Linked DNA regions of Homo sapiens: region 2 is reported to be linked to region 1. The links are microRNA targets in miRTarBase. Many come from high-throughput screens and were not tested one by one. Region 1 holds a microRNA gene; the other region holds the end of a gene's coding sequence.
The links. Region 1 holds the annotated microRNA hsa-miR-34a-5p (UGGCAGUGUCUUAGCUGGUUGU, at 2,421-2,442, shown strand). A microRNA usually pairs through its seed, bases 2 to 8, with sites in the 3' UTR of a target mRNA and lowers its output. Matches are read on the target gene's strand: a 7mer-m8 pairs with bases 2 to 8, a 7mer-A1 pairs with bases 2 to 7 and ends in A, and an 8mer does both.

Region 1 (4,067 bases):
GGCCAGATTCCTGCCTCTTGCACCCCATCTCTGGATGGGCCAGCCCATCCCACACGCTTCTGCTGTGCTTACAAAGTTCAAGTGTGCTGTGGTCACTGTTTCCATGTGGCTATCTGTTTTCAGGATTCTGGGGTCCCCTGCCCCGTCCAGTCTTGGCTGGGAGTTGAGGGAGGGAGGAAGCTTTGAGTTTTTGCTTGTCTCTGCGCTGACCTGGGGACACAGCAACTGCAGGATGTACCTTTGGCATCATCCCAGAGCTGCCAAGTCTGAACTTCTAGGTTTGAACCTGGGAATCTGCATTTTACCAAAAGCTCCCCAGCCGATGCTTACACAGTGAAGCCGAGACCTGCCGCTCTAGCTGATGAGCATGCCCTGCTGGAATTTACCTTTGGGTTAAAATCTGACATATTAGGAGCTTTTTTTTTTTTTTTAAGACAGAGTCTCGCTCTGTCACCCAGGCTGGAGTGCACTGGTGTGATCTGCAACCTCTGCCTCCCAGGTTCAAGCAACTCTCCTGCCTCAGCCTCCCAGGTACCTGGAACTACAGGCACATGCCACCATGCCTAGCTAATTTTTGTATTTTTTTTTTTTTTTTGGTAGTAGAGATGGCGTTTCACCATGTTGACCAGGCTGATCTCGAACTCCTGATCTCAAGTGATCCACCCACCTCAGCCTCCCAAAGTACTGGGATTACAGGTGTGAGCCACCACGCCCGGCCTAAGAGCATTTTTCCCACACTAAAAGATAACACAGTCCAGCTGGCTTGCTTTTTAACCAGAGCATTACAGGGTCACCTGTTTGGAGGAGGAGGACTGAGGTCAGAGCAGGCTCCTGTCAACTCCAACGGGACATTTCACAGTGGCCACAACAGGCTGACCTCTGTGTCCTGTGTCCTGCTGACTGTGTGTGGAGGCCTCAGAGGGGCTCTTTCCCCCTTGCACAGAGAGAGACAGCACTGGCTCATGAGCCTGCTTTTTTCTGCACTACCTTACCTGGAACTCAAGTTTCTGGGACTTCCCATGCTGGGGTAGAGGTGACTTTGATCCTCCTGAAAACAGTCCTTCATGCCCCCACACCCACATGGAAGAGGAACTGTTCCGTGGTGGTCCGTATCCAAAGTCACTAGATCTTGGCCTGGCATAGTGGTTCATGCCTATAACCCCAGTATTTTGGGAGGCCGAGGCGGAAGGATCACTTGAGCCCAGGAGTTTGAGACCATCCTGGGCAACATGGCAAGAACCCATCTCTATAAAAACAACAACAACAAAACAACAAGAAGTCAGTAGATCTTAAAGCACTAGATCTTAAACCCTGTGATGGGCAATTTCCTTGTCAATTTAGCGAGGCTGTGATACCCATGATTCAACCAAACGCTTGCCTGGGTGCTACTGTGAGGTGCGTTGTACATGTGGTCAGCACTGATGATCACTGGCTGTAAGTCAAAGGTTCTCCTCTGCGAGGTGGGTGGGCCTCATGCAATCGGTTGAAAGGCCTCAAGAGCAGAACCGAGGTTTCCCTGAAGAAGAAGAAATCCTGCCTGGGGACTGCAGTGTCAGCTCCTCCGGGGAGCTTCCGGCCTGCTGGCCTGCCCTCTGGATTTCAGACTTGCCTAGCCAGCCCCCACAATCACGTAAGCCGATTCCTTGAAATAAACTTAATCTATATCTCCTTCTGGTTCTGATTCTCTGGCAGAACTCTGATCCTCTCCCTAAACGGTGCCCGGGACGGGGGAGGAGTTGGCGCTACTTCATTGCTTCCCTTTCACGCAGACATGCTGACTTTTCAACCACTGTCCTTTTCGAATTTTTTCTCTTCCAGGGAAGTGCTGACTCTTTTTCTCCTTGTCAATTAGTCCTTTTGGAATCTGTTACTGGTCTCAGCCTTCTCCTCCATCCTCTCTCTTTCATTATTTTTATTTTCATTTTGTAGAGACAGTTGCTGAAGGTGGTGGTCTGGCTATGTTAACCAGGCTGGTTTTGAACTTCTCGCCTCAAGTGATCCTCCTGTCTTGGCCTCCAAAATTGCTGGGATTACAGGTGTGAGCCATCACCCAATTTTTATTTTTAGAGACGGGGTCTCACCCTGTCACCCAGACTGGCGCAATCACAGCTCCCTGCAGCCTCAACCCCTGGGCTCAAGCGATCCTCCTGCCCTGGCCTCTCCAGTAGCTAGGACTACAGGCACGCATGTCACCATGCCTGGCTAATTTTTAAAATTTTTTTGTAGAGATGGAGTCTTGCTAGTTGCCTGGGCTGGTCTTGAACTCCTGGCCTGAAGCGATCCTCCCACCTCGGCCTCCTGCATCCTTTCTTTCCTCCCCACATTTCCTTCTTATCAACAGGTGCTGGGGAGAGGCAGGACAGGCCTGTCCCCCGAGTCCCCTCCGGATGCCGTGGACCGGCCAGCTGTGAGTGTTTCTTTGGCAGTGTCTTAGCTGGTTGTTGTGAGCAATAGTAAGGAAGCAATCAGCAAGTATACTGCCCTAGAAGTGCTGCACGTTGTGGGGCCCAAGAGGGAAGATGAAGCGAGAGATGCCCAGACCAGTGGGAGACGCCAGGACTTCGGAAGCTCTTCTGCGCCACGGTGGGTGGTGAGGGCGGCTGGGAAAGTGAGCTCCAGGGCCCCAGGAGCAGCCTGCTCGTGGGTGCGGAAGGAAAAAGGCACAGGGGCTTGGTGTGGGCGGCTTTTGGCTGGGAGAAGTTTGCACGTAGGGAGAATAGTAGCCAGTGTTTGCAGAGCACTTACTATGCAGGAAGGCCTGTCCTAAGTATTGTAAGTGTATTACATCATGTACAAGTGTCTGTGATTAACCCCGTCTTGCAGAGAAGGAAACAAAAGTACAAACAGAAAATGTAACTAAGCATGCAATTAATAAAAAGGGACCAGGTTTTGAACGCGAGCAATCTGGCTCAAGAATCTGCGCCCAACCACCGGCTCCTGTTCTTAGAGATGAACGTGGAGTCCTGGAGACTGCTCAACATTGTGACTTGACTGTGAGCGTACGCGCTCCCTGTCCCCAGGAGACAGATTTCCAGTGCAATCATAGAAAGTGCCTGTGTGGGCTTCGGGAGATGTGTCTGCCTTGGGGAGAATTTTCCTTTTCAGCTAGAGCCAGGCCCAGGATGTTGACGTCAGTGAGACGCTGGTGACGTTCTCTGCTCCAGTGGCTGATGAGAAAAGTTCCTCCAAGCCAGCTCAGTTGAGAAGAATTAAGTTCTCTGGGTCCCACTGGCTTCACCTACAGATGCCAACTTTGAGGCCAGTGAACTGTGAGGCCAGCTGGGCTGATTGCCATGGCAACAGGAATTGGACCAAAGTCACCGGAGGATGGAGAGGGAAGACACAGTGGTGGCTTCCCCAGGTCTTGGACCACAAGGCACAGCCGTGGCCTCCAGGAACCCTGAGATAACCCGTTAGTGGGTCCTGCACTCCAACAGAGCTCATGCAATCAGCCTCTGGTCCTCACCCTCCTCCCATTGGTGTCGTTGTGCTCTCTAACATTGACATTGAGCAGTGAGTGCTCCAGATCTTGTTCCACTGATTTTTTCCACTGTTCTCCAGTCTAGCACTTTCTGAAATTCATCCAAGCCTAAGAGGTGACGCCAAACGTAAGTGTCTTACACCTCGGACCCCATGGACTAAGACAAGCCTCTGGGGTCCATGTGGCACCAAGGATGGGGCCTTCTAGTACCTTTCACACAGGCCAGGGACAGCACCTGCTGCGACCCCCACCCCCAGCCTCTGCTGCTTCTCCCGTTGCCCTTCCAGCCACTGCCCTGGGCACCTCCCCTGCTCCCGCCTCCCTGCCTGGGCCCATCTTTCTTTGCACCTCACCAATTGCGGGGCTTCCTAGTGCTGGAGGGGAAGGGAGCCTGCTTCCATTCTCACCACTCTGAAAGAAGACCCTGCAGAGAGGTTTTCTGGAATTTGGAGCCTAACCTTGGCCTTGACACAGTCCAGATGAGAAGGCCGTCCCCCAGTTAAGCCAGCCCTCCCTCCCTCTCAATGCTGGAGAGGAAACCAGGCAGCTGGTTGCTTCAGCAAACCCCCTCCCTATGGGAATTGTC
Region 2 (4,055 bases), not on the chromosome of region 1:
AGGAGTAGAAAATTACTGAAGCAACTGTCAGCCTGGTGTGGGCCCAGTTCTGAGGATAGTCGGGGAGGCCGGCGAGCTCCCGGCAGAGGCCAGCAAGGATTGACCAGAGAGGCTTGCCTGTCCATCTTGGGCCACTTCCCCAGGGCCCTGGTTTGGGTCAGCCTGTCCCTGCTCAGCAAGGGCAGCCCCGAGCCTCACACCATGATCTGTGTCCCAGCCAAGGAGGACTTCCTCCAGCTCCATGAGGACTGGCATTACTGTGGGCCCCAGGAATCCAAACACAGTGACCCATTCAGGAGCAAGATCCTGAAACAGAAAGAGAAGAAGAAAAGGGAGAAGAGGCAGAAGCCAGGACGTGCCTCTTCTGATGGCCCGGCGGGGGAAGAGCCCGTGGCTGGGCAGGAAGCTCTGACTCTAGGGCTGTGGTCAGGCCCTCTGCCGCGTGTGACGTTGCACTGCTCCAGAACTCTCCTAGGCTTTGTGACTCAGGGAGATTTTTCCATGGCTGTTGGCTGTGGAGAAGCCCTGGGGTTTGTTAGCTTGACAGGCTTGCTGGATATGCTGTCCAGCCAGCCTGCAGCGCAGAGGGGCTTAGTGCTACTGAGGCCTCCCGCCTCTCTGCAGTATCGATTTGCGAGGATTGCTATTGAGGTGTGAATGCGTGCTTGTATCCCAGCAGGGCATAGATAATACGTTATTATTGTCTGCCAAGTTCTACATGTGGAGAATCTGCTTCTGCTTTAAAATATCATGTGAAACTCCCTGGAAACAAGAATAAAAAATTATGTATTATGCAGATGATGAAATGTTTACATCATTCCAGTAATGTCATTGATTTTCATCTTTCCCTGTCCTTGCTGTAATACTTTTAAATTATTTGGCCAAAAGCTTTGTATTATGATCTCTTGGTCTGTGTAGTTGTGGCTGAAAATAATGAGAAGCTCTACGAGTTATCATCCCCTTTTTTTGTTAGAAACAAAGGGCTTGTCAGGTCTATTTGAAAAACCTCATAGTCATGTGATAAGCAACAATAGATGTTTAATGATTTCACTGTTATAGCAGAAGACAAGAGAAGACGCTTGGCCTCTGTACATGAAATATGGGCTCCTGATGGACCTCATTCAATTCTGTACTGTGATTTCCATGCCGAACAACTCAAGCCTTAAAGAGAGAAATCATGGACAACTGATTTCTGCCTGTTTTCAGGCAGGCACAGTTTATGGCGTCAGTGCTAGGCTGGAATTAGAAAGTGGGGGTCTATGACGTGGACTTCCTGACTCTTTGATCTCTTTGTTGTTGACCAACACTTGATCCTACTAGTTACTTAATTTTTTTAAGTAAAAAATTATTATTATTTTGTTTCTGCAAAGATTTTCTCAAAGCCATAGAGGAGCATTTCTCAGAATATGTTCTATGATATGTGTCACCTAAAAAAGTAAGAGATTCCAAGGTCAGGTTGATATGGAAACTCTAGGTTAAATAAAGTTAAGCATTTCTTTATGAAAGAACTTCTGGAAACTTCCATGTGATAATGTGCATTGCGGATCTCTAGGAAGGAAATGATAGTGTATAGTATTTTCTAAATACTTGTGATTCCTAAAGTTCTCTTACAAGGAGCCCTTTGTAGGACCAGTGTTCTTAGTAGCGCGCTTTGGGCAGTGTGGCTGTGTAGTGCATAGCTACCTCTGCAAGGTGATAACTAAGCCGGCAAGCTGCCTTTCAACACTCATGCAGTCACGTTGTCCACCTGAGATTCTCAACAGGGTATAAAAGGAAGGTCTCATCTTGCCTCACAGGAAGAGTGGGCTCAGTGTGGCTTTTTTCCAACTATGGAGAAACTCAGTGCTCATCTACTTTAAGTTTCCACATATGGCTTGCTCATAGCCTTGGTCCTTACCTTTCCTGCCATAACTTTCTAGAAGAGCTTAATGGGATTTTTTTTCTAAAAAATGTAAATATGCAGTTAGGCATTATTTTATGTAAATGCATTGGGTTTTTACTGTAGCATTTGGCACTAAATGGCTTTGGGGGTGATGAGGTGGGGAAGGATACAGCAGGTGGTACAGTAGTCAGGAAGTACCTGCCACCAATGAGATGTCTGATGCTTTGCCTCTTACCATGCCTCTGAATGTCTTTGGATCCAACCCAGATGAGACTGAAAAAAAAAAAACAGTGTAACTAAGTGGCATCTGTAAACAGAATAAATGAAAATGTCACCTGATGTTCAGTTGTGAATATTTATATTTATTGGACCATTCCTTATTTGTTTTCTGGGCTCTCAGTCACCTCATTTGTGGCTGAGCTCACTCGATGACAGAAGTCTGAGTGTGCTGCGTGGTCACCTAACCTCATTCTGTACAGCCCTGCCTAGGGCCTGCTGCCCCGCCCTCATTATAGGGGACAGGGCACGTTTGCAGCCACTCTGCCTGGTGGGTGGTAGGTCAAAGAGCTGCGCACCAGAAAGATAGATTAGCATTTCCCAAAATGTATTCCTGGGAGTACTAGTCCCTGCAGCTGTTCCTGGAGAAAAGTATTTTATGGCTAAATAAATATGGGAAAAGCTATATATGGTATCCTCCTATTATGATTCACAATGAATACTTGCAGAGTCAAAGCTCTGCAAAGCTCTTTAGGAAAGAAATCTGTCTTTCAGACTCCCACACACGTACCTTTTTTGGTTTTTGCATACCTATTGTCCAGAGAACACTAGTTTCACAGAAGATACGTTGAAAAACTAACAGACTCTGCAGAGGCAGTAAAGAATCCATGTTCCTTATGAAAAAGACTGATAGGGGAATGGCTTACTTTCTGGCAGTTGAATTGATTAGCGTGTTGATCTTGATCCTTCCAAGTGCCTGCCATGCTGTACTAGAGCTACATAGCTACCAAATAAGTGCAATGTGGCCCTTGTCCTCTTGTTGAGGGAGCAATGCTTTTAGGGTTCTTGAAGCATCCTGACCAACATGGTGAAACCCTGTCTCTACCAAAAATACAAAATTAGCCAGGCATGGTGGCGCATGCCTGCCATCCCAGCTGCTTGAGAGGCTGAGGCAGGAGAATTGCTTGAACCCGGGAGGCGGAGGTTGCAATGAGCCGAGATCGCACCATTGCACTCCAGCCTGGGTAACAAGAGCAAAACTCCATTCCAAAAAAAAAAAAAGAAAAGAAAAGGCAGAGTTGTGAGCTGAACACTTACAGACCAGCTATGCACTTGAGTTCTGTAAGAAACAATGGATTCCTTTTGGTGTTTATGCTCTAGTAATATTGTTCATATCAGTCATCCATATTCATCATAAAACAATTAGAAAATGAAGATGAGCAACAATAACAAAATTTAAATCACCTGGATTTTCACCATGCAATATAACTAGTTACCTTCTGTTATGTATCCTAGACGTTAAGATGTATGTGGGTAGTTTTCTTTTAATAACATAAGCCGTTGCTTATATAAAGAGCTATACCATGCAAGTGCAGCAGAGTGCATGTTACCAGTTTTTTTGTTGGTGCTTGACTGGCAAGAGCTTTAAGGATAATACTCCTTTTTTTTTTTTTTTTTTTTAAATGGGAAGTTAGTATGTAACCACCCATCATGTACTAAGTGTAGCATTGCCGTCTTGGCGGCCACATGCCTTGCGTGAGTTCTTTCTTCCCAACCAGTGGGAGGTGAGGGGGGCGGTTGACAAGCTATATGGACTCCCTCATAGTCTTAACTGGCCTACTCGTAGCCAGCCGATCTGAGGCCTGGGGAGCACAGAGATAGGTCCAGGATTGAGCTGTTTAGCAGAGAATACATAGCCTGTAGCAACTGTGGGCCACTCAAGCATCAACCCCAGTTTCACAGCGGTTCTGGTTATTATAGGCCTCCTGAGGACACAGAGGAATACAGGCACTGCCTTTTCTTTGGCAACAGCAGCTTCCAGTCTTGGCACCCTTCCCTTCCCCTCCCCTTCCCCTCTCCTTTCCTTTCCTCCCCTTCCCCTCTCCTCCCCTCCCCTCCCCTCCTCTCCCCTCCTTTCCCCTCCTCTCCCCTCCTCTCCCCTCCTCTCCCCTCCTCT

Region 2: the mRNA of POP1 is a reported target of hsa-miR-34a-5p. The part of its 3' UTR that is shown has no 7-base or 8-base seed match.

What each region holds. Positions count from the first base shown.
Region 1 is chr1:9,150,110-9,154,176 of GRCh38, reverse strand. MIR34A (microRNA 34a) reads left to right here and starts at 2,400; the gene lies at 2,400-2,509. MIR34AHG (MIR34A host gene) reads left to right here. Exons shown (of 2, transcript NR_132742.1): 2 at 2,342-4,067. RefSeq lists a silencer at 2,355-2,591.
Region 2 is chr8:98,157,615-98,161,669 of GRCh38, forward strand. POP1 (POP1 ribonuclease P/MRP subunit) reads left to right here. Exons shown (of 16, transcript NM_001145860.2): 16 at 3-2,221. The coding sequence ends at 657. Among named protein-coding and RNA genes, the nearest start is that of NIPAL2-AS1, 17 kb to the right of the region's middle.